Homo sapiens: one gene and its partners. The protein of the gene in region 1 interacts with the protein of each later gene in a biochemical or structural test. Each region holds a gene or a part of one and is shown on either strand. Other genes may lie near its edges.

Evidence for each region.
Region 2: of the proteins of PRKD1 (region 1) and MARK2, one has a biochemical effect on the other in vitro, tested with the Homo sapiens proteins (one study listed by IntAct).
Region 3: of the proteins of PRKD1 (region 1) and USP28, one has a biochemical effect on the other in vitro, tested with the Homo sapiens proteins (one study listed by BioGRID).

What each region holds. Positions count from the first base shown.
Region 1 is NC_000014.9:29,575,011-29,582,575, forward strand, and holds the end of PRKD1 (serine/threonine-protein kinase D1), read right to left. Parts: intron 5,081-7,565; exon of another isoform or gene 4,955-5,080; intron 3,351-4,954; coding exon 3,265-3,350; intron 2,447-3,264; coding exon 2,228-2,446; 3' UTR 1,469-2,227; downstream 1-1,468.
Region 2 is NC_000011.10:63,903,604-63,911,710, reverse strand, and holds the end of MARK2 (serine/threonine-protein kinase MARK2), read right to left. Parts: intron 7,726-8,107; coding exon 7,564-7,725; intron 6,926-7,563; coding exon 6,668-6,925; intron 5,624-6,667; coding exon 5,597-5,623; intron 3,452-5,596; coding exon 3,407-3,451; intron 2,835-3,406; coding exon 2,474-2,834; 3' UTR 691-2,473; downstream 1-690. UniProt on the Homo sapiens protein: Serine/threonine-protein kinase. Involved in cell polarity and microtubule dynamics regulation. Phosphorylates CRTC2/TORC2, DCX, HDAC7, KIF13B, MAP2, MAP4 and RAB11FIP2. Phosphorylates the microtubule-associated protein MAPT/TAU.
Region 3 is NC_000011.10:113,801,374-113,810,069, forward strand, and holds part of USP28 (ubiquitin carboxyl-terminal hydrolase 28), read right to left. Parts: intron 7,882-8,696; coding exon 7,690-7,881; intron 7,065-7,689; coding exon 6,925-7,064; intron 6,764-6,924; coding exon 6,578-6,763; intron 5,212-6,577; coding exon 5,116-5,211; intron 3,674-5,115; coding exon 3,495-3,673; intron 3,379-3,494; coding exon 3,300-3,378; intron 2,505-3,299; coding exon 2,425-2,504; intron 1,909-2,424; coding exon 1,785-1,908; intron 306-1,784; coding exon 110-305; intron 1-109. UniProt on the Homo sapiens protein: Deubiquitinase involved in DNA damage response checkpoint and MYC proto-oncogene stability. Involved in DNA damage induced apoptosis by specifically deubiquitinating proteins of the DNA damage pathway such as CLSPN.

The DNA of each region.
Region 1 (7,565 bases):
TCAAACATCATTCTGTTGCTTTCTTTCTCCATTATTAACTGTTCTCCTTGATGCTTTATACCTTTACATCTTATTTTCTAAAAGCACCAAATTTGTTTATTCACTTCTATATAATAAATTTATTTTGTGCAGGGACCATGTCTTATTCACATTACAAAATCTTAGAATCTAGCAAAGAGCTGTGTAGAACAGATGTGAAATAATTTTTTGCTGCATGGATAATCAACTTCTGTGTGGTTTTATAATGTACAGTAATATTTGGTTACTCTTGCCAATCAAGGACTCTAGGATATTTTATACTATATGGATAATATTATCATAGTTTCTTTTCCTATAATCTTTTTAGAATCCCATATCAAGCAAGAAAAGTTATTGATTACATTTTATACTGCAGCTGATAAAACATAGGCATATAAACTATATAAATTATCATAATTCAAACAATAAGCCTCTAATTTATATTACGCACATATTAAGAGGGAAAAACTTTATATGCTTCCACTCCTTTTCCATTTTCCTGAAATTGCTTAGAAAAGGTATCATAGAAAAGGTGTCAGTTATATTCCTAGGTTGGCGAGAGAGTTATTGTCTTACTGATTTACATTCTATTCTTTCAAGTTGGTGGTACATGTATGCTTGTGTATGCAAATTCACTTGTGCATGCATGAGCACACGCACACACACACACCCTACCCCTAGAGAAAAGCAGATGAAGGAACTTTAAAATTTTTATACTTGTTAAAGTTCAATAGTAATACAAAACAGAGACTAATAATTGGAAAGATTATCTATTGTCCCCTCATTCCTCCAAGTGGAAAGAGTACAGTCTTAACATACTTATCTAATATACTCAAGTGTTCCACAACTCTTGTAACATTCTTCCAAACATTAATTACAATTTTTTTTCTGTTACATAGTATGCTATTCCCATCCTGCTACTAAGGAAAACAGCCCACATTATTCATATTATATACCTCAAATCTGCTAGGTCCAATTTGTCTTCTCCAGGCTGTAGAACTTCACTTGAGATGCCTTTCTGTTTAGGGATTACTTTCTAGTATTTTTTGGTTCACCTCAGAACCATCTTTAGATCATATGAAAAGAAACCAGATCTGGTATTCTAATAAATCTCTAGCTTATATTGACTAAATCAGGAAGCTACATTAAGATGCTATTTGCAATATTCCAACTACTCAGAGTCATCCTAACTATGCCTCCAAGCACTCTGTTTGGCTTTGGTCACTTTTCACTTTGAAAGCCTTCCTTTCTATTAGAAATTAAACCACATGCAAGACAGGAAGGCCTCACTCCACTTTGAAACATACTTTTACTGCTTCAGAGTAGATAAAACTACATTCTACACTATGAGCTTTTTTCCTGCTTTTTGAGCAGACACTTCTGCTCCTAGTTGGCCTGAAAACCCTAGTGTGAACGATGAATGAAAATAGTTCAATGAGGTGGACACATATTTTGACAAGAATATTTTTTATTATTGAAAAATACACAAAGGTGAAAGGTTGCTGAGCAGCTGATTTTCCATAGTACAACAGAGTATTATAAGAAAGAGGGAAATGTATCTGTTATATATGGCAGTTTACATTTCTAAGGCATTTAGGCTTAAGAGCACTAGGTCTTGCACAGCTAGGTGCATTGTCTTGAGTTTAAATATACTGAGGCACACCAGGCAGGCAAAGGATTCAAAACTATACATTAAAACTTGTTCATGCATTTGTGTCTTAGGATTTTATTCCCTACCCTCCTCATTCATTTTTTTCCCACATGGGTTTTGGAGTTGTTCATAGAACACTGGAAATAATCGACTCTTCAAGAGTTTGTTTACAATGACAACACCAATGGGACACACCAAACAGAACTACTTCACAGATACATTCTGTCTCTTACCAAAATGAAGCTCCAGTAAGAAAAACACTGATTTGCAAAGGCACAGTGGAGACAGGTTTAATGCATTAAATATAACATGAATCATTCACAATAACAAGTTTCGTGTTTCAGGGAACTTTTGTTAATACAACACAGTTGGTCACACAAAATACAAATGCTTCTGTTGATTTGTCTTGGCAACTCAGATACATCAACAGTGCTAACAGTTTAACAGCTTTGTTCTCATCTGACAGAAAATAATGGCAGTTCTGCAAGGCAAATGTTAAACCTGACCGTATGTATTTATTAGTTCCACAGTGTTTTGACAGATTATAGGAGATGGAACTCAGAGGATGCTGACACGCTCACCGAGGGCTTTCATTTCTGTTTCTTCAGTCTCAGGAGTGTCACTGTGGCTAGCACTTGGATTGATCAGGTGTGTGGGGTACTGCAGCCCCTGCTCGCCTGCATACTTCTCCCACCTCAGGTCATCACTTTCATGGGTGATGTAGCGCTCCCCGATTTTGCATTCCAGCTCTCGCAAATCTAACCAGGTCTGATAGTCCTGAAGAAGAAATTCCAAAATATTACCATAGAGATCATTACAACTCAACATACTGTTTCATATGATGTCAGTTTCTGCAATCTATGAGTTACCCTTCTCCTTCCACTCTAACAGCGCTGAATCTTTCATCACGCATCCTCAAGTGACAGTGTCGGCACCAAAGCCATCCTATTTGTCTAACCTTTGCAAATACATACTGTTTATAAGATAGCATGGATCAAAGAGTGGGCAATTAATGTTTGCAGTCAAGCAATCAGGAATGCCAGTATTCCTTTGAAATTTAATGCCTACAAATAATCTTTCAGTATTTCAGAGTATTAGTTTCCTAAAGTTTAAATTCGATGTGAAAATAATAAAGCACATCCATATACTTTGTATTTGCCATGCATTTGTTCCATATATAATAACCTAGCATTTAAAAATATAGCTTCTAAATGAGTACAGTGCATGACCAGATGGGCATCTATTTGTACATTTATCAGGATTACACATACAGATGCTTTTGAAATCTGGTCCTCTGAGGTCTGTTATGATCCTTGGTTTATTTATTTATTTTTGGTTTTGCCTTTTGGTTTTGGGCTGTGTGTGTGTGTGTATATGCGTGCGTGTATCTCTTCTATCAAATTATCCTGGTAGAGAAAAATGTTTAGAAACACTAAATTGTTATTAAATCCTATGAAGTTGCATGCATTTGAGCAAATAAATTGATATTAGAATAATCACACTTTAAAAATTATTGCAAAAGATTTCTAAATATCAAAATCCTATAAATATTTAGAAGCTCATTCAACTAAGAAAACTCAGTGATTATTGTTTACCTGTAGCCAAGGGTGGCTCAAGGTCTTATCCACACTGTAGCGCTTTCTCATTTTTACTTGCAGCAAATTGTTGATAAGATCAATGGCTGAAAAAAATTACCAGTAAAAATAGATGACAAATCTGTAACATATGCATAATTCATTTATAGTTTATTTCACATCTGCTATTTCACACAGTTAAATGCAGCATAGTGACAAGGCACTAGAACCAAAAAAAAAAATCCTCTTAAGAATACTGAAACTTTGGCCTTCATTTTATTTTGGATACTAAAAAAAAAAAAAAAAAAAAAAAAAAAAGAAGAAGTTGGAAGTAATTATGGAAGAAGTATTAGAGTCTATTGTATGATATGAATTTCAATTGGTCTACTCTTTAACACTTTCTTTAATTTAGAAATTTTGTTTATATGTACATCATTTAAATATGTCTTACAATATGGGCAGGATAAAACTAATATTCAAGATAAAGCATTTACTAATTTTGTTATAAAACATGCTGAACGTTTGAATACACACAATGGTTCACACAGTATTGAATTAAATGACAGATATCTGAACATCATATTTGTATGGAAAAAATGCATCATAACATGGGTCATATCTCATGATAAACTTGGAGCCTGAAAACCAACAGCCCAAGAAGAAAACACTTTAATTGCTTTCACTTTGCTTTTGCTTTCAAAAATAACCAATGTATTGGAATTATATCAGCCTTCATAGACTTTCTAGAGGAAGACAGGAAAGAAGTCTATTTAACAAGAAATGTTCTCTGAGGGGTTAGAACCACAATCCCTCTGGCCTAGTACTCTGCTTGTGACTGGGGAGTCTGTGAGTGTAATTTATGAAGAAAAAGTAATACTCATCGTTATCTAGTCTGAAAATCATCCTAGTTACCCACAGTATCATGTGATGGAGTTCTCACTCTCCTTTTCTGGACATTATATTTTCAGTATACGTCATTAATAGTTCATTATTTATTAAAGTCATTCCCTCACACTTCTCATTCTTGTAATAACTTCCATGTTTCTCTTTTTGAATTTTAGCATTTTCTTCCCAAAAAGAGCTTAGTGAAATCTGCCAACCTAATAGGAAGCATTTATATTTCAAAGAGTTAATTTTTGCCCTTAACCTACCCTAGGCATTATGTCTGAAAGATGGCTCTTCCTACCAAAAATCTTAATCAAACAGGCAGCTGATAAACGAAAATGAAAATTAACTCCTCATCTTTCCCTATCACCAAGTCTTGAATAGGCAGCTTTGAATCCACTTTTTGGTGTGCATCAACCTGTATGGACCTGAAGATACAGACTGTCACATGAGACCAGAGGAACAAAGACTGCTTCCTTCAATCAGAATCCTTCCCAGTGTCAGGCAAAGAAAAGTGACTTCTACAGTCTTTTGGTAATTGAGAACCATATCTCTATGGAGCTAATGTTACAAGTATTTGCCTGCCCTGAAGGGCTGTAGAGTCAAATATCAAACAATTATTTGGAGAAATGAAATGCAACAACACACATTTAAATGTTGCCTATGCCTATACACTCTTGCCTTACCTAGGATACCTGAAGAAATACAGTACTCAGTACATTTTCATATTCCAAGCATGTGTTCTCAGAGAGCTTTTAAAAGTATAGTTCTGTGAACTGCGTATAGGGCATGTGCTTTAAAATATCCATTCACATGATTTACTCACTGGTGAGTAAAGTGCACCTTCCATTCTTGCTGCTGTGAAGTCACCCGGCAAAAATGGAGGACAAGGAGTGAAGGGAGAGCTTATGTGCTATTGCAAGCTTGCTGCAGCATTACACTGCCCTAGACACTGCAGGAAATAAATTCATGTCATTAATTCACTCATTCTGTTTGGAATTCTGTAATTAGAAAGGCAGGAGTACAGTAACTCAACAAAAGGTCTCGTTTGTGCCCAAATGGGCCCCAACAGTGAACCACACTGCATAATGGGGAGGGAAGTACTATCAGAGGGGAAACTAGAAGTGTCTGAAGGGAATGGAATAAGTAAAAATGAAAAAATTGTTCTGCTGAATGAAGCATACAATCATTAGTCTGACTACGCCACAGTACCCAACCCAAGTGACCTGAGTAAGCACAACAAGGCAATGGCAACTACTTCCAAGAGAAAATGGTTAAGGATATAAGGAGAGAATTAGAGGAGAAACGTGTATGTATAAATAAATGTGTGTGTGTGTGTATACATACATTTTGTGGCTTTTGGAAGCACACAACAGAAATAATGAACTATTAAATGTTAGCACCTATAGCTAAATGTTGGGACCACGGTATTAGTGAGAAAATAGGTCCGTCATTTGTAGTTGAGAATTCTGTTCTGCTTGTTACTTTTCTGGAACTCTTAAAATATCCTTTTTATTAATCAAGTTGTATACAATCCAGCATTAACTATACCATCCAAAATGCGTTTTACTAAACATTTTTGAACACAGTTTAGAGGCTTTTTTCCTTCCAATATTCTCTTTACTGGCCATGTCTACATTGATACAATATTCATGTAATAAAATAGTCTCAGATGTATTATGTATGTATAAATCATTCATTTATCTGTTCATTCACCAAATCTTCCTTAATTCCTGTTGGCAATTACTTATGAAATAAAAAGTTAATGATCAAGCCCTGACCCCGAAAAGCTCACAATCTAGTTGCAAAGGCACATGCATGCCCCTCCCCAGACCACAGATGACATCATGACACAATACACCATTCTGAATCTTTGACCTTTAATTCATATCCTACTCAAAGCAAAAAAAAAAAAGTGTTTTCTTTTTATAACTTACTGTCATTAGTCCTATTTATGTTTTAGATGCAATGGAAAACTTTATTCTATATGACAGTTCTTTACATCTTTGGAGACAGTGATTCATTCCCCTTAATCTCACCTCTATAGTTCCTTCAGATCTTTCAGCCTGCTTAGTCCTCCTGTACACCTCGATTTTAATAGTCACTAGCTCTACTCAATGTCCCTGTTAAAATTCAGTGATCATCACTGACCAACATTTTCCTCACTAACTGCCAATTTGAATTATACGCAAATATATTATTCATATAGTCTAGGATTGAGGGGTTTTCATTCTTTTTTAAAAAATTACATTCATATTCTTATTTAGTCCTTATAACAACCCCCTGAAAGTAGTTATTATTTTAATCTCCATTTTAATAAAAGGAAAACGTGACGCTTCAAAAGGCCATGTAAGTTGGTCAAAGTCAGACAGCTCCTAGGCAATACAGCTGAATTTGAAACCCAGGGGGACTGGAATTCAAAGCCTGTGCTCTTAAACACTATGGCAGACTGCAGCCATATTATGCCATTAACTTATCATTGTAAGTGGATAATTATCTCAAAAATTAACATTTTATTTTTACAGTCATGATAATTACATTCTTAGTTATGTTTCCACCACACTTTTATGTGCTTGAACGCAAGGATGTGTGTGTATGTGTATGTACATCTCTGTGACCATAGCTCTGCCTCATATCGTTAATTCTCCTAGCTTTCTGTCATGCTCACACCGAATAAGCCCATCTGCTATGTATTAATACAATTATTAGAACTTTTTTCAGGATAAGGCCTAAACATAGGGCTTTCTGACTCTATCACAAAACACATTACCAACTGCCAGGCCTATTAATTATTCTTTGAGCAAGTCTTAAAAGCAGGCAGTGCTTCCTCCTAGAAGTATTCCTATGTAGCTCATATTTACCATCTTCTCCAAAGGCTATTTTAGGCTATTTTTTTTTTCAAATGCTTTATCATTGAGACACATCAGTTCTTGGTAAGACTCATTCTACCAATCTGGTAATCCTACTTAAAAAAAAGTGCAGTTATTCTGGAATAATACATTTTAAGTAAATTAACATTGACAAATACTGACTTTCAGTCATTTTCTTCTCAGGGCCAAGATTTGTTTTCTAAATATTTGCAAATCATCTATTTAATCATTCATTCATTCTAGAATTTTGTCAAGGATAAATACTGAGCTTCTTGTTGAATAATTTGAGAATCCATTCTTTCCCCCTTTTAGAAATTCTACTTGTCTTAAATACCTTGGTATCTCTCTCATTTTATCGAGCTTCTTGTTGAATAATTTCAGAATCCATTCTTTCCCCCTTTTAGAAGTTCTACTTGTCTTAAATACCTTGGTATCTCTCTCATTTTATCTATGATTTATTAAAAATTACCACGGCTCTAAAAGCACATCTGTTAGTTTCTTCAATATGTAGTGTGTCCAGCTCTGAACATTTACCCATCTCATAGCTGCTATTGAGTGCACTTTTGT
Region 2 (8,107 bases), on another chromosome or scaffold:
TGCATGTGTTCCTGGCAGCTGGGCCTGTCTCCTGGGGCCATGGCCGGGCTCAGGGGCCTTTGAGCTGGCCTGAGGGCACTTTCGCTTCCTGGCCGGTACTGGAATGGCTGTGTCCTAGTCTGCTGGGGCTTGGCCTCTGGGTCCTGCCCTTTGTGTGTCCGGGGTAGTGACCTTAGCGTGGAGTGGGGAGAGGGCAGTTGGGTGTGCTGGCTGTTCTCATTCCTCTTTCCCTTCTTTTAGCAATAAGTCTGGGGTGAGGTGGGGAGGGAGGCTGCAGGGGGGGAGGTGGGCAGAGGGGCCTTACAGCAGCAGAGGCTGGAAGAGAAGCTCTGTCTTCAGGGGCCAGCTGGGAAATGCTAAGGAGCTGAGGGTGCCCACCAAGCCCACCTTCCAGAAACTTGGAGAAATGGGGGTTGGGAACTTATGCAGACATGGATTTATTTTTCAACATTTTTTAAAAATTAAAAAAAATAAAATCTAAGCTTACTGAGTTTTCTTTCCCTTTTGGTGCAAGGGCCCTGGGCTTTGCTTCCTGTCTGTGCCCTGTGGGTAAGTGGGGAGCTGGGCCCACCCAGCACTGGCCCCAGACAGGAATCAAGTCTCTCCTGCAAGGCAGGTGGGCTAGGCCACATCTTGCCCACAGGAGACTGGGTCCCTGCCTGGCTGGGAGAAGAAACAGGAGGAGGCAGCTCAGATTCCAAACATTCTCTTTATTACGTGTTTGATCCAGAGGAGAAACTAAGTGCAGGGTTGGGGAGGAGGGGGCTAGACGGGGAGGGGCCACCTTGCCTGGGTGCCCCGGGCCCCTACCCCCTTTGGGAGCCAAGCCATGCCCTCCCAGCCCCCTCAGAGCACCCGGGCTGTTCCATAGGGCAGGAGGGGGGAAGGGAGGGAGGGGGAGCCCTTGGTCTGAGCCGCAGTAGGAGTGTGGGGCAGGAGGGCTGAGGTTGGCAAGGCCCCTTCCTAGGACGCAAGGGCTCGGCTTAATCGCTGAGCCTGGCCTGGGAGCGGGGGTGATGAAGAGGGGTGGAGTCATCATAAATCAAAAAAAAAAAAAATAAAATAAAATAATAAAAAATAAAACCCATCACAAAAAAATGTACAACTCAGGTGAGGGTAGGGGCAGCCTCTGTGTAGGACTCCCACCCCCAATTTCTCAAGAACAGAAACAGCAGAGAAATAAATTAAGGGATGCAGTGGCCACCACCAGCCAAGCGCCCCAAACCGCCCACGCCCACACTGGCCACTGAGGGTAGCAAGCTGGGAGTCGCTTAGCCTATCTGTCCCCCACCCTGTGGAGGGCAGACGCTCCCGGCCCTGCTGCCTAACTCAGCCTTCTGCCAGGTGGCCCTCGGCAGTGTCTCCTGAGAGGAGGGGGCGACAGTGTCAGGAAGAAAAGGCAAGGCTGAGAGATGAGAGTGGTGAGGGAAGTCACTGCTATGGAGAGAGCTGGTGCCCAGATTAATGCCAATGAAGGGGAAGCCATGGGGAGAGGAAGGGCGAGGGGGCTGTGCTTTCAGACAAAGGCTCCCCCATCACAGAGTGCCCAGTGGCCCTGCTCTGGAGACCAACAGCCCAAGCGGCCCCCTGGGGACCGAGAAGCCAGTCTGCCCTCCAGTCCCCTCCCCTCTCCCAGCCCTGGGGTCAGCCCCTCCTTCTACCCGGGAGGGGTGGGAGAAGATGGCACAGACTTTGAGGGAACACACGTCCCCACAGCAGCTTGTGGAAGGAAATGCCCAGCTCTGGGGAGGAGGGGCAGAGGGTACAGTGTGGAGGGAGGCGGAGCCTTGTGCCGGCCCTCCAGCCTCAGCAGCCCCGGAGCAGCCCCCAGCCCCACCCACTGCAGGGCTGCGCAGCACCCCCGCCCCCTGCCCCACCGCCCAGGCCTCCAGCCCAGGGGCCTGAGGTCAGGGGAAGGCCACCTCTGGTGGTTTGCTTGGAGGGGAAGGAGGGAGGAGAGGGGAGAAGCCCACAGTGGGCCTGGCGGAGGGCCTGACGGGAGCTCCACCACTCTTGCCTGAGAGTGTTCCAGCCCTGAGCCACCCTCCCGGGAAACCCCACAGATCCAGTCTCGACTGTCCCAATGGGGCAGGGAGGAAAGGTGGCCGCTGGGATTTTTTTTTTCTTTTTTCTTTTTGGTAATAAAAAATTTCTTGGTTTAGGCGAAATACTCTGTGCAACCGCAGTACCGAGGGGGAGCCCTGCCCCCCCATCCACCCTCCCCTTCCTTTGCCTCCAGTAGGGGAGAGGAGAAGGGGGAATCTCTGGGCAGGGGTGAATGTGGGGTGCTGGAGAACAATCTCCCACCCCCCACAAACATGTAAGAGAAAACTGAGAAGGGCCAGGGAGGGGAGAAGTGCCAGCAGGGGAGACACACCAATCCATCGCTGCAGTCTCGCCCAGGTGGGGCGGCGCAGCGGCCGGCAGCCCGTCCAGCTGGCCCGCCCCCGCCGCCCCCGCTCCTGGCAGCCTGTTAAAGCTTCAGCTCGTTGGCTATTTTGGAGGCAATGTTTTTGAAGGCCATGGAGGTGCCCGATATCCGCTTAAATCGAACCCCGTTGAGAGAGAGCCGCGGCAGTTTGCACACCTCCATCTCCCACTGCACGAAGTCCTCGTGGCCCGGCGTGCCGTGCATGCACAGCAGCATGTACTTCTCATGCAGCTCGCTCTGGCAGCTGTTCGCGTCCAGCACCTTGCGGATCTCCCGCATCATCTCGTTGGGCTCCATGGAGCTCGTGGTCTTCATACTCCACGTGAAGCGGAGGGAGCGGGGCTTGGCCTCCCGAAATTCTTCCTTTTCTTTGTCGTTGCCGCCACTGCCCACCACGTGAGGTCTGTGGAGAGGGCAGAGGCGGGCGTCACGGGGGGGCTGAGGCACCCCACCCCAGGAGAGCCACCCTGGCAGACAGCCCCTGAGCCCAGAGAGGAGAGCGGGAGGGAGCAGGAGCAGCCAGGCGTGGCCCCTGGCCTGCGGGGGCGGAGGGTGGCAGTCCTCCAACCCCCATCTCTCAGGACAGCGAAGGGGAGGAGAAGCCAGCCTTGGGGTAGGCGGGGTGGGGTCAGGGAAGACACCAGTGCCCTCAACAGCACGAGCACAGACTCTCTCTCCAGAAAGAAGCCTCCGAGCACAGGGAGGTGGGATAGTCCAGGGGTAGGAATCTGTAGCCCCAACCACCCGACCCAGAACTCCGACTTCCAGAATATACCAGACCTGAGGAGAAGGGCCCGTAACTCCTGCAATTGGGTTTGGGAAGGGGAAACTCTCTGAGGAAAGGGAGGCCCCAGAGGGTAGGGACAGGGCAGAACCACGGGAGGAAGAGCCAAGTGGCAGAAGGAAGAGAGGAGCAGGAGGCTGTGGCAAGCCCGGTGGCCCGGGCAGGGCCAGTGCTGGCTCCAGCCCTCTCACCTGAGCGTCTCCACTCGGTCTTTGCTTTCAGGTTCATTCAGGTTCCTCAAAAAACAGAGCGAGGGAGAGTTTAGTGCTGGGATCTCTCGCTCCTTCCGCCGCCACAGACCCAGATGAGAGTGGGTCTGGGGAGGTGCCACCAGTGGGTGGGCAGGACCCAAGCCCAGGGCCCTCTGCCCATCACCTGGCAAGCCAACAGGGCTCTGCAGCACCTCACACTGGCGGCTCAACCATTCCTTTCCAGCAGGGAGCCCAGCACATGGGGCTTGTCCCTCCCCACATTCCCAGATCTGTGCCGGGGAGAAGGAGCCTCTGCTCTGGGGGAGGAGGGGGAGTGGCTGTGCACGCACTTCACTGAGCACACTGAGCACACGGCCCGGCACGAGGCTGCTCCCCCACAGCCAGGGCTCACGCGCTGTTCTGGGGGTTGCAGGTGTGAGTGCGTTTTTGGAGCCACACGCTAGGGTCTCAGGACTGCAGTCCTTTTGGAGGAAAGGGGCTGCAATGCTTTGAATCTCTGTAGGAGGAGGGGCCGTGGCTACGCAAGGGCCTGTCAGGAGACTCAAAGTGCCAAGGCCTGGGTCTGCATGGTAGGCACCTGGGGATGGCTTCCTGCTGCTGAGTGGAAAAGGCGGCCTCCTCCGACCTTTCCCAACTCCCCTACCTGCTGGCCTGCCAGGCCATCTGCTCATACGCAGGGAGGATGAGGGTGGGGTGGGGCAGGGCAGGGCAGACACCTTGGTTGGGTGGGTGGGGAAGAGGTCTGGCCCCGCTGAGCGGCTTCTCCAGCTCCTGGCTGGAAGATGGGTGTCTGGAGCTAGGAAACTGGGGATTGCAGAGGAGGAAGGATATGAGAGGAAGGAGGAAGAGCAGCAGCACATAGAAATAAACAGGAAGACACAACCAACACAGGGGTGCACACAAGCGCACTGCGAGCAGGGAGCCCGGCTGTGCGAGGAAGGCACCCTCCCTGCTCTCTCCAGACCCCCTGTGGGGCAGCCCCCTGCTGGGGCCCCTTGAGGCAGCAGCCAGTCATGCAGTCAACAGCTGGGTGGGAGGAGGAGGGGATAGGGAAAGCCTGAAGACCCTGTCTGGACGTTCCTCCATCAGCTGTGGCACCAATGTGCCTGCCAGGCATCCCAGTCCCAATGCAGGGCCTGAGCAGACAGCCTTGGGGAACAAGCACTCTTAACCTGGCCCTTGGTCTTCAGCTTGGTATTTGGTCCCCGAGGCCTGCAGAGAGGATGAGCATAAGGCCAGGGGTGAAAGAGCCAGGAAGGGGACTGTGAAGGGAGACCCCTGAGTAAGGGTGCAGAGATCTCCTGTTGTTTTGCTACGGCTTGGGGTAGAATGGCCGTTGCCCTAGAATGTCCCAGCTCCCCGCACTTTGGAAGAGACAGGCCATATCTGGAGAAAACAGCCTAGAGGAGAAGAGGCTTGATTTATCCAGATGCTGCTGGTGGCAGGGGTGCTGGGGCAGGGGTGCGGGTGGGTGGGGCTAGTTCTGCAGGAGCTGCCAGGAGGGGGTGCTGTGCTCCATTTGTGAGACAAAAGCTCCTAAGGTCTGGGGGAGCCAGACTGAAACCTTGGGGCCCCAGGGTCCCCGTAGTGTCTCCAAAGTCCTGCGATCCCATAGGCCACGGGGAAGAGGTCACATAGCTCTGAAGTTCAGGAAACCCAGGAGACAACAAACAAGATACCATCCCAGATGCACTTGTAACCCTGGAGCTTCCTCATAGCGCATGCACATGACAAGGGAAAGGGCAGGAAAGGATCCCAACACTTGTGACCAAAACCTGGGGTGAGAGGGAGTGGGGGTGGGGTGGGGTGGGTGAGAGGAGACAATCTTAAAGGGAGGCTTCCCTGAGACAGTCTCCCCTTACTTGAGGACAGGCGTTAACTGTGGGCCCAAGGAAGGCCCTCATTTTTAAAGCCATTTGCCCTGAGTGGGCCAATGTGGCCTCTTAGCCCTGCCTGTTTGTACTGGGGGCACGGAGGGCAGGCCTTGTGCTGATGCCCAATCAGAGGCAGTCTTCATCCCTTTAAGATGGCAGAGAGAGGAGGGCCACACAGACTTGGTTAAGCAGATGGAGGAGAGTAAGAGCCAGAAAAGGGGAGTTAGTGATGGAGGCAGGACACAGGACACAGACACACACACACACACACACACACAGCGGGCTCAACGCCTACCTTCTGGCAAACCTGAAAGACAGATTTCTAAAAAAACAAACAAAAAAAAGACAAAATAAAAAAAGAAATAAAAAAAAAACCAACAAGACGGTATGTGGATAAGCAGGTGGGGGAGGTGGCTTTACAGGTTCAAGGGTCATCCCATTTTCGGAAGAGCCGCTCAGCGAGACTAGAGTCCCAGGCTTTCAGACCTGCCCACACTCTCTGCAGGCCTCACACTTGCATTCTGGGGCTCGGATGGGGCAGTGGCTTTGGCTCCTCCAGCAGAGTGGAGTGAAACGTAGAGGAAGGGCAGGCGAGCCTGTTCTCTCAAAGCCCCTGCTGCTTCCTGAGCTGCTACTCCAAGGCAGGGAGAGGAATGGCAGGATGGGGATGCGGAGCATCCCAGGAGGCCAGCCAGTTGGCTGGATGCACTTCAAGCTGCACCTCTGTGGTGGCTGGGGGCTCAGGTGTGAGAAACCCCGTGAAGAGATCCCCACCCTGGGTCCAACACAGGAAACCTTTGGCACATCGGAGTTAGGTTAGGGAAGAGGCCACTGTAGGCCCTCGCCAGTGATTTCATTTATAGGTTTCACCCTAAAACCCCCGGGCAGAAGGGCATGGCTGCGCCTGCAGCCAGAAACAGAACCAACTAGTGGGAGAGGCAGTCAAAGGGGCAAGAGACCAGGACAAAATTTTCCTTGCTGGCCCCAGCCTGGCTCATGCCTCATGACTTTGCAGCTGCGTCACCAAATATAAGTTTCCATGGGAACCCAGGAGAGAAGGGGGGGCTTTTATTTTAGCATCTGAGTTCACACTCTCCTAGAGAGGAGGCGGCATCGGCCATCTGCTTGGGGCCAGAGAATGAGGGGTGCCTGTGAGGAGTTGGGGAGAGGCCTAAGAGGGGTGGGCCTGGGCACATAAGGTGTTGACAAAGACCTAATTTCTTGTGCTTCCTGAAGCCTCTTCTAACCCCAGGACCCAATACCGGTACAGAGTGTCCCAAACCCCAACCCCCAACCCCCAACCCACCCCGAGTAAAGCAGGAAGGCCTGGCCTGAGCCTCTCTGCCACCCAAAGCTCCTTGCTTACCTGCGTACAAACTTGGAGGTGAACTTGCTGAAGATGCTCCCAGAGGCCCCCCGCCGGCCCTGGCTGTGGCCAGAGGGAGAGGCTGGGGTCACACCGTAGGGCAAATTCTGCTGGTCCCGCACCTGTCGGAGCTGCCCAGCATGGAAGGTGCTTCGGCTGGACACACCCCGGGGGAAGTTAGTTCGGTCTGGGGCTCCACCACTGCTGCTGATGTTGTGGGCGGATGGGGAGGCAACAGGGACACGCTGGGGGGCTGTGCTGTGGGAAGAGAAGTGGGGTTGAGGGGGACGAATTAGGGTACAGGACAGCCATCACTGGGCACCTGGACACCCTGTGGTGGGGACAGGGAGGGGGATGCTAGGGCAGAGGCAGCCATCACGAGGACACAGAAGGAAGGGTGTGACTACTGAGGACAGTGGTGAGAAGGAAGTCTCGTGGAAGTGGAAGGAGATGGTTTGGGAAGGGAGGGAGGGAGGCAAGGAAGGACCCCTGTGTGGAGTGTGGTTTAGGCTGGAGACAGCGGGCTCCCTGGGAGCCGGGCAGACTGGACCCTCAAGGCGGCAATGGGGACCAACCCTTGAGGATTGAGTCCCTGTGATGCCGACTATCCCCGGGGTCCCTAAGGAAACCCTGGAAGGTTCAGAACAAAAAGGTTTCCCTTTGGAGCCTTAGGACAGCTTCCTGCATACCTGTTCTGAGAGGGAGAACTGGAAAAGAGGGGCATTAATGCTCTTTTTTGTTCCCTCCACTTCCTGGCCGCAGGGGACAGACCCATTTCTTGTGGCTAAGATGACAAGAACACAGCAGGACCCCCAAGTGGGAAGAAGAAATTGTTGGGGCAAGGGGGTAGGGTGGGCTGAGGGCAGCAGGTGCACCAGCTGCCCCAGCACACTTGCCTGGGCCGCGGCACCTCACAGTTACTCTCCGTGGGGGGCAGCCCAGAGGCCTTGTTGGGGTGCACGGAGGCCGACATGGATTTCTGGTGCTGGCGGGGCCGGGCCGCAGAGACTGCGGCAGAAGCAGAAGCCGTGGAGGCCCGGGACCCTGGCATGGTTAGGCTAGGAAACAAAAGCAGCGGAGAGGCCCGTGTTAGGGGTGAGTGAGGGCGGGAGGCCTGGATTAGGAAGCAAGGGCAGGGGAAGGGCCAGAGCTGGGGAGCTCTGGCAGGGTAGAAGTCAGGCCTGGGCAGCAGCGGGATGCAAGTCAGAACTGAGGAATGCGGGGCTGAGAAGTGGAGGTGAGTGAGGTCGGGAAGCAGCGAGGTGGGTCAGTGCCTGGGAAGAGGAATCAGAAATGAAGGAGAGCAGACAAGGGGCCGCTGCCTCCAGGCTGCACTGGCCTCCTAAGAATTTTAAGAACAGGAGAGTTTCTTCTACAGAAAGAGTGGGGTGTTGCTGAGGGGAAACTTTCATAAACTCAGAAGAGATAGAGCCAGGAATG
Region 3 (8,696 bases), on another chromosome or scaffold:
AGAAGGTTCCAATTCCTTAAAAAGGTTTGGCAACCAGTGCTATCAAGTGAGAACACTGAAATTTCTACAATTCTCAAAACCTCAGAATATTATTACCAAGAGCATATACCTGCAATATCTTGCCCAAGGTAAGAGCACCAATGGTTTCTCATGACCTCAATGGCATCCAGATCATCCTTGGAAATGTCATTATTAATGATAAGGTGAATGCAGGGGATGATCAGTTCATTCATCACATTAATGCCCTCAGTTACGGAGTGATCATCATTTGTTTCAAAAAGAGAAGCTGCTTTGGCATTCAGCTCCTACAGATAAAAGGTAGAATTAGGTGGGGAAGAGTCTGAAAAAGATAAATATCTCTTTAATAACAGTCTAAACAAGTGGTTCCCAAACTTTACTGCACATTGGATGTACTTAGGGATCTTTAAAAACTACTGATGCCTGGTTCCCACTTCTGATAAGCTGATTTAATTAGTGTTTAGATGACCGGGACACTGGGATTTTATGAAAGCTCCCAAAGTGATTCTAATGCTGTAAAGTTTATGACCCATTGGCCTAAACTTGTAAGTCAAGGTCATGCTTAACACCTGTTTCAACCAAAGACCTGTTCACTGGTTGTCTATCTCCTCTGAGCATCAGAATCACCTGCAGAAGACACACTGATGCCCAGGGCCCTTCCCAGGGATTCTGGTTTAATTGCTAGGGAGAGGCCTGAGCTTCACGACTGTCTGAAAGCTCCCTATATGATTCTGATGCACACTAGGGGTTGGGACTCAATAATGGAAAGAGTCTAAATCCCTATAATTGCATTACTTCAGAAGCTGAGTAGGATATTCAAAATGTCAATCTATTTGGTGATTTAAAATATAAAAACATGGCTCTAATAAAATTCAGATCCATCAAACCAACAAGATCCCTTTTCAGCTTCAAAGTGGCCCTGCCACACCTATAACTAATACAGATGTCAAAGTATAAATCAGAAAATAAAGCTATTGAGTATATGTCATGACTTAATCTCACCCATTCGGTATGAACAAGGTAAAGGCAGTGGTAGAAATATTGGCCTGACTTCTGTGAAGGGCAAATTTGCTGGGTATTGGTGAAAACACACACAAGCCCACACTCTGAAGGCAGGCCACCCCTTTACAGTTCTCCAAAGGACACACATCACATAAACCCCTGGGGAGGCAAGGGGATGTAGGTCTGCCTTTCCATGTAGTTATACAGTGCAAATCAGGCCAGGAGAGAGTTAGTCTTCACTAGTATGTGACAATGATGTTATCAGAACAGCAGGACCAATTCTTACAGTTCCTACCTTTATTTTAAAAAAATGGAGTGTCAGAAGTCACTAAAACTTTAAGTCTACCAGCTTAAATGTGAACATGGAAAAAATGCTGCATTCCTTCCACACACATTTATTACATGGTTCCTACATGACAGGCACAGAGGAAATGGCTGAGTGAGAAAAGGATCTGAGCTCAAGGAATTTACAACCTAGTAGGAAAGCAATGTGATAAAATCTATAATGCAGGCATACATGAAGGGCACACAGAGGGATGACTGATTCTCATCTTAACTTCTATCAGTTATCATTGAAGAAGAATGACATTCACTAAAAGTAACTGAAAAAAAACCTGTTCCAATGTAAAACTGTTCATGAGAATTTTGGGGGGAAATCTACAACCTGTTGGAGATAGTCTGTTTTGAAAGCCATATATTTTCCTGGCTTCAAGGAGCAGAGGTAAACAACAAAAAAACCTTAAGGCTTTACAAACAGTACAAACCAGAAGGCATTTTCTTCGGTATAAAGCAATCACGGATTCTTTGACCCCCCGGCGGGGCCCCTTCATCAGCAGGGCAGCATTGCTCTGGTAGGCATATACCAGGTAGGAAAGTGCCTCTTGGTACCTTAGAAAAATGGGAGATAAACAACAGCTGAGTGCTCTTTTACTAAAATCTAGGGCTTAGACCTCACTTTTCCCCATTTCAAGAACCTACTTGGCTGCAATTCTGAAAAAGTGAAGGACCAAAGACCGTAGCCAGTCTCATCTCTTCTACAAATTGGCCTAGCCATCCAAAGCAAATATGAAACTTCCCTAGGCCTCAGGTTTTCCCATCTCTAAAACAAGAAATGCTCACTAGGGTCTATGTCAACTCAAAAATTCATTTTCTGAGTTCATCTTCATTGATCACAAAGACAGCCTGGCACAATATTATCTCGCAGCTAATACATCTAATCATTTGAAGGATGAAAAACCATGTGTGATGTTTAGAGCAAAACCAAAGCACTGCAAGAGAAGAGGCACACTAGTGTATGTGACAAGGGAGGTTATGCATGGCTGTGACTCTTAGTATTCCCAGGTAGGCATCTACAGAGAACAGCATCCTGACTAATAATCTTGGTAAAATAAAAGGCCAACATACTTTCCTTTTTGATAGAGTTCTAGGCCTGTTAGGAGATACACAGACACTTTTCGGAACAAACTATAATCTTCATGCCACTTCTGAAAAAGAATGACGATTATTAATAATCATGATCATAATAGATTGTTAGTGTCCTTCCCATCTAAGTTTTAAATTCATTACAAATATTTACTGAGCACATCTGGCTAGCCACAAAAATAACAAACAAAAGCTTTCAGATAAAAACCTACTCAACATTTAAAATAAAAGTCTACCACTGACCTTAATTTTCAATGTTCTGTTCCTTTCACTTGAGTAACAGAAGTACTTATTTCCTACGAGCTTCGGATTTTATCCTAATTTCTAACAGCTATGTAAAAGATATTCAGCTCTAGCTTAAGTGAATGACCTCTTTAGGACTGGTAAAACCATCCAGATATTGAAAATATGGAAGGACACGGACATTTCTAGTCATACAGAGCAAGTTCAAGTTCAGTAAGTGTGGTGAATACACCTTGGGTGGTACATAACATTGTTTTACATGGGATGCAATTGAAAACATGTGTAGCTATGTATTTTAATGCGTATTTTTAAAACTTTATCATTTAAAACAAACCAAAAGCATGATTTCAAGAATTTTACTGCCTAGGACAAGGCTAAAATAGGTATTTAAGGGAAGTGAAATGTTGACTCACTCTAAATGAAGAATGAAAATAAAGAGACCTGCTATTCTGAGGGCAAGAAAATATCATTTATCCATTCTTTACCAGGATTTTGAGGGGAAAGTGGAAGAACAAGTCAGTTTGTAATAGCACAAAATTGTTTATTTTGCCTCAGGTACCATTTACCTCAGGAATTAATGTTTTTGCTCTATAGACTTAAAGAAAACACTTTACCTTGTACTCTTCCATATTCATGTCATCTGGACCAATTTCCTTCAGTTTCGCTTGAGCCACCTTCATAATGCTGATTGATCTGTGTGGGACAAAGTTCAGAAAGCAATGAAAAGGCACAGGGCAAAACTTCCCCAACAGAGGAGTCCATCTAGCCCAACCCAGACCAAGGGATTCACCTGAATATTCTCTTCTCACCTTTCATCATAGCTAAGATTTTTATCTGCAAACTGTTCCAGAAGGGTTCGTTCTACTACCCTTTTGGGTGCTTCATTTTGGAAAAAGTAGACAAGGACATGCTGAAGTCGAGGATCACTGTGAGAGGTGGGGGTCTCTTTGGCAAGCTGATAGAGCCTGGAGTATTCTTCATGGAATGCCTATTAAGGGCAGAATCAATGGTTAGAAAATAGTGTGCTGTGGGCTTCTGCACACAGAAATTGATGCCTAGGAGCTAGGCAGTCTCTTGACTCTAAAAAGACTTCTAAAAAATTCATATCGAATTACAAAAACAACTATGGAATTTTTAAGTTTCTTGCATTTCATAAGGGATGAAACTCTTTTAGCATTCTGGCACCAAAAACATACTGTACTTTTTTTTTTTTTTGAGACAGAGTATCACTTTGTCACCCAGGCTGGAGTTCAGTGACATGATCACAGCTCACTGCAGCCCTGAACTCCTGGGCTCAGGTGATCCTCCCACCTCAGCCTCCCAAGTAGCTGGGACTACAGGCATATACCACCATGCCCAGTTAATTTTTGTATTTTTGATAGAGATTGGGTTTCGCCATGTTGCCCAGGCTGGTCTCAAACTCCTGAGCTCAAGCAATCCACCCACTTTGGCCTCCCAAAGTGCTGGGATTACAGGCATGAGCCACTGCGCCCAGCCTACTGTACTCTTAAGAAATTCAGTTTTCTCATAAAGTTCTCAGAAAAACAAATATTTAGTTTTAATTGTTATAAAAGGCAGATCCTTGTGTGTCAATGACTTAAACTTAAAGAATCTATACAAATGCAATTTTACTCAAGTATTTTTAAAAACACAGCCTACTTTGTTATGGCCTCAAAATTACAAAGGCACAATCTAACTCAGTGTTACTAACAGACAACTCCTAACAACAACAATGAAAAGCCCTCTAGGCTAGGTGTCACAGAGAATGTTACTGCTAGCCAAGGCTGGGTTAGGGTCAAGAGAAGAGAAGTGAACAGCTTGTTCATCAGTTGGACAGGAAAGGAAGTCTCATATTTCACTTCACAGAAGACTTTTTTTTTATTTTTTGGAGACAGGGTCTCACTCTGTCACCCAGACTGGAATGCAGTGGCACAATCATGGTTCACTGCAACCTTGAACACCTGGGCTCAAGTGATCCTCCTGCCTCAGCCTCCAAATTAGCTGGGACTACAGGTATGTGCTACCATGCCCAGCTAATTAAAAAAAAAAAAAATTCCTTAGTAGAGATGGGGGTCTCACTATGTTGACCCGGCTGGTTTTGAACTCCTGGCTTCAAGCAAGCCTCCCTCCTGGGCCTCCCAAAGTGCTAAATTACAGGTGTGAGCCACTGTGCCCAGTCCTTTTTATTTTTAAAGAGATGGGATCTCATTATGTTGCCCAGGCTGGAGTGCAGTGGTGCAATCACAGTACATTTCAGCCTCCAACTCCTGAGCTCAAGTGAGCCTCTACTTCAGCTTCCTGAGTAGCTGGGACTACATGCACACACCACCACACCCAGCCTTAACCCCATTTTTTCCCTTCTTATAGAATTATTTCCCCAATATTATGATGCCTATATTGTAAGAATTAGAATTTTAAAAACAGAGATACCTTAATCAGCCCTGCTTCAGACCCATCTCGGTCAAAGGTCTGACGGGCTTTAGCTATGGCCAGGATGACCCCTTGCATGGCAGGGCTCAGCATCACCTACCACAAGGGGGCACAAAACACAGAGAGAAAGGAGAGAAGAAAGGTTCAGCAGAAGACTGTATGAAAGCAGGCTGAACAGAGTGCTAAAGGGCAGCAGAGCAGTGTGCTCTTTGGCCAGCATGTATTGCAAGCTGAGTTTCACACACCCATTCCTATGTGCACCCACTGCCTCTGTCCTTCTATATAATGTCAACACCCTGCCCAAGACAAGCTATTCCTACGCTCTATGTTCTAATTCAGTAGGATAAAGAAAGATGTATGCCTAAAAATATCTCCCAATATGGCACTGCTGAAGAATTAAGTTAAATTATAGTTCTCAGAGGGGAAGTGTCTAAGGTCAGAATTCCAATTTAGTTCTGTACTTTGGGTGTATATCTTAAACACACAAATACTTTAGAGTTTTACTAGGATAAACAGTACATTTAAAATAGTCTGGAAACTAGCGACTATACAAATATGACTCCATAAAGTAAAAACTTTTCAAGGACTTTTTTTTTTTTTGGGAGACAGAGTCTCGCTCTGTCGCCCAGGCTGGAGTGCAATGGCGTGATCTCAGCTCACTGCAACCTCCGCCTCCCGGGTTCAAGCGGTTCTCCTGCCTCAGCCTCCCAAGTAGCTGGGATTATAGGTGTATGCCACCATGCCCAGCTAATTTTTGTATTTTTAGTAGAGACAGGGGTTTCACCATGTTGGCCAGGCTGGTCTTGAACTCCCGACCCGAGGTGATCCACCCGCCTTGGCCTCCCAAAGGGCTGGGATTATAGGCGTAAACCTCCGTGCCCAGCCTTGTCAATGATTTTTTTTTTTAAATACCCCACAGAAAAAAAACAGAAATCTGAGAGAGACAGAATTCATTATTGTTTATGTGCAGTGCAACTGAAGAGGAGACAGACAACAAACAACTTGGGGTTCTATAGCTTCTTCCTATAGAATTCCTTTACAATTAAAAATAACTTCAATCCACATTTGTTTAGCTCACTGGACAACTGAAAAATTTATATCTGGAGGTAAAACAATGGACTAATATCCAAAAAAAAGATTCCCTATTTTAAATTAGAAGGCAATCTTTTGTCCATAATACCAAAAAGGGAACTTAATTTTACTTTTCTGAGCCATCTAGACTCTGCAGTGGCCCCATTAAGTATAAGCCTGGGTAGATATACATATGCTGGGAGCGCTATACAATAGAAACATGGCTATCTTTTAAATAATGGTAACTAAGGTCAAAACCAAATAGGCTTTCTTGACAATCATTTTTTGCAACGAGAAAATATCAGCTATTGGCAGATACCTTAATATAGTCACAAGAGAAGGAAATATAAGACTGACAACAAACAACTATATCCTGCACTCATCTCTGTACCTCCTCATCATATCCATCTGCATCAGATCTAACCAGAATCCTTCCCACACTGGGAATCTCGACTTCAGAGACCTCAGAATTAGGCTGGGCAGTAGACTCTGCATCATTAGCCTTTGGGGGCTGTTCTGACTGCTCTGCAAGGTTTGTTTCCTGGGGCATGGGCTTCTTGGGTTCAGCTTCTTTAAGCTGTGGCAGCAGAGTGGGGAGAAAGAGTAAGAAAAAACAGGAGAAATAAATAGGGGTTGGTTAAAGGCAGCAGAGACACAGAATAATAGAAATGTGAGAAAACTGGCCATCGCTGCTGAAAGCCCGGCTCTCCTGAACTTGGGCTTCCCAGTCATTCTCACCTCACTCAGTGCCGCTTCTACACCGCTCTTCTCATAGGCACGGGCTGTGTTTGCAATAGCCTGGGCAGTTTGCTCCTTTACAATCACAGCATGCTCAGACGACAAGCAGCGAACCCCATGAGAAGAGGCTACTGAAGGCTCTGATAAAGAATTGAACAAAGGTCTTAGCATCTAATGATAAATAGTCTAGAACACTCAGATAAAAAGCAAGCAGAATGTATACAGTTTAATATACAACCCTGTTAACACAGCTTTTTACAAAAGCCTATGCAGATTTTCCCTAGAAATTAATAACTATAAGAAATGGCTACTTCAGCAAGAACTCTATTGATAAAGTCTGTAAACTTTGAACCCACAGATGATTCTGTAAAATTTAATGCACTCCCAACTTTGTCATATTTCTATCCATTAAGAAAACTTTCTACAAACAAGCATCTTTTAGGAAGATCACCTTTGGAGAATGGTTTTCATAAAGTCTACCTATTAACCCTATCATAGTTTCTCCCATAACCTGGGAAATAAGCAAAACTATATACACAGTGAAGGTCACAGGTAGTTAGTCTTTCTGATACTGCTTCTGTTCATCAGAAATCACATTCTAATGCCACAATTCATTCCATCAGGTTGTACCTGGCATACCAACTGTATATGAAATATACTGTGAAGACTGTGGCATCACCTAGCCAGCTGAAGGGTATAGGGCTGGCTAGGGGAGTACAGCATGAGATGTTACTGGATCACTGGCATAAATGCCTTCTCAGATACCTTGTGATGTAGAGTAGTCCTGTGATGAGGAGTTGGTGGAGGACTCCATTTGAGGGATTTTGCAAGACTGCTCTTCTTCCCACTCCTCTACTTCCTGCTCAAACCGCCAGTTATCCTCCTGAATGTAATGCTTGAGTTCCACAGATAGGGCTTCCACTTCTGACATTTGATCTGATTCAGTTGGGGCTGCCTCTGAGGAAAAGCAAAGATAGAGTTAAAAGGTCACAAGGAACGAAAACATCCTTTTTAGAAAAGAAGAAAGCAGGGTATTTCATCTTTATCTTACTCCTAACTAAAAATACATGCACATAGAATCCATCAGAAATGCAGGCTGAGTATCTCTTATCCAAAATGATTGGGACTAGAACTGTTTTGGACTTCAAATTTTTTTCATATTTTAGAAAATCTGCACAATTAGTTATAGTTGAGCATCCCAAATCCTAAAATCCAACATCTGAAATTCAAAATGCTCCAATGAGCATTCCCTTCCAGCATCATGTAATGAAAAAGGCTCATAAAGTTTTGTGGATTTTGGAGCATTTGGGATTTTGGATATTCACATGTGGGATGCTCAACCTGTATGGACAATGTAAGGGCAACAATTGATAACAGTGCCTGACATTTAGTAGGCACTCATTAAACATCTGCTAAGTGAATGAATAACACAGAGTTAAAGATATGGAAAGTGGGCCGGGTGCAGTGGCTCACGCCTGTAATCCCAGCACTTTGGGAGGCCAAGGCAGGCCAATCACTTGAGGTAGGAGTTCAAGACCAGCCTGGCCAACATGGTGAAACCCTGTCTCTACTAAAAAAAATACAAAAATTAGTCAAGCGTGGTGGCGCATGCCTGTAATCCCAGCTACTTAGAAGGCTGAAGTGGGAGAATCGCTTGAACCTGGGAGGAGGAGGTTGCAGTAAGCTGAGGTTGCGCCACTGCGCTCCAGCCTGGGAGACAGAGTGAGACTCCATCTCAAAAAAAAAAAAAAAAAAAAAAAGATTTGGAAACT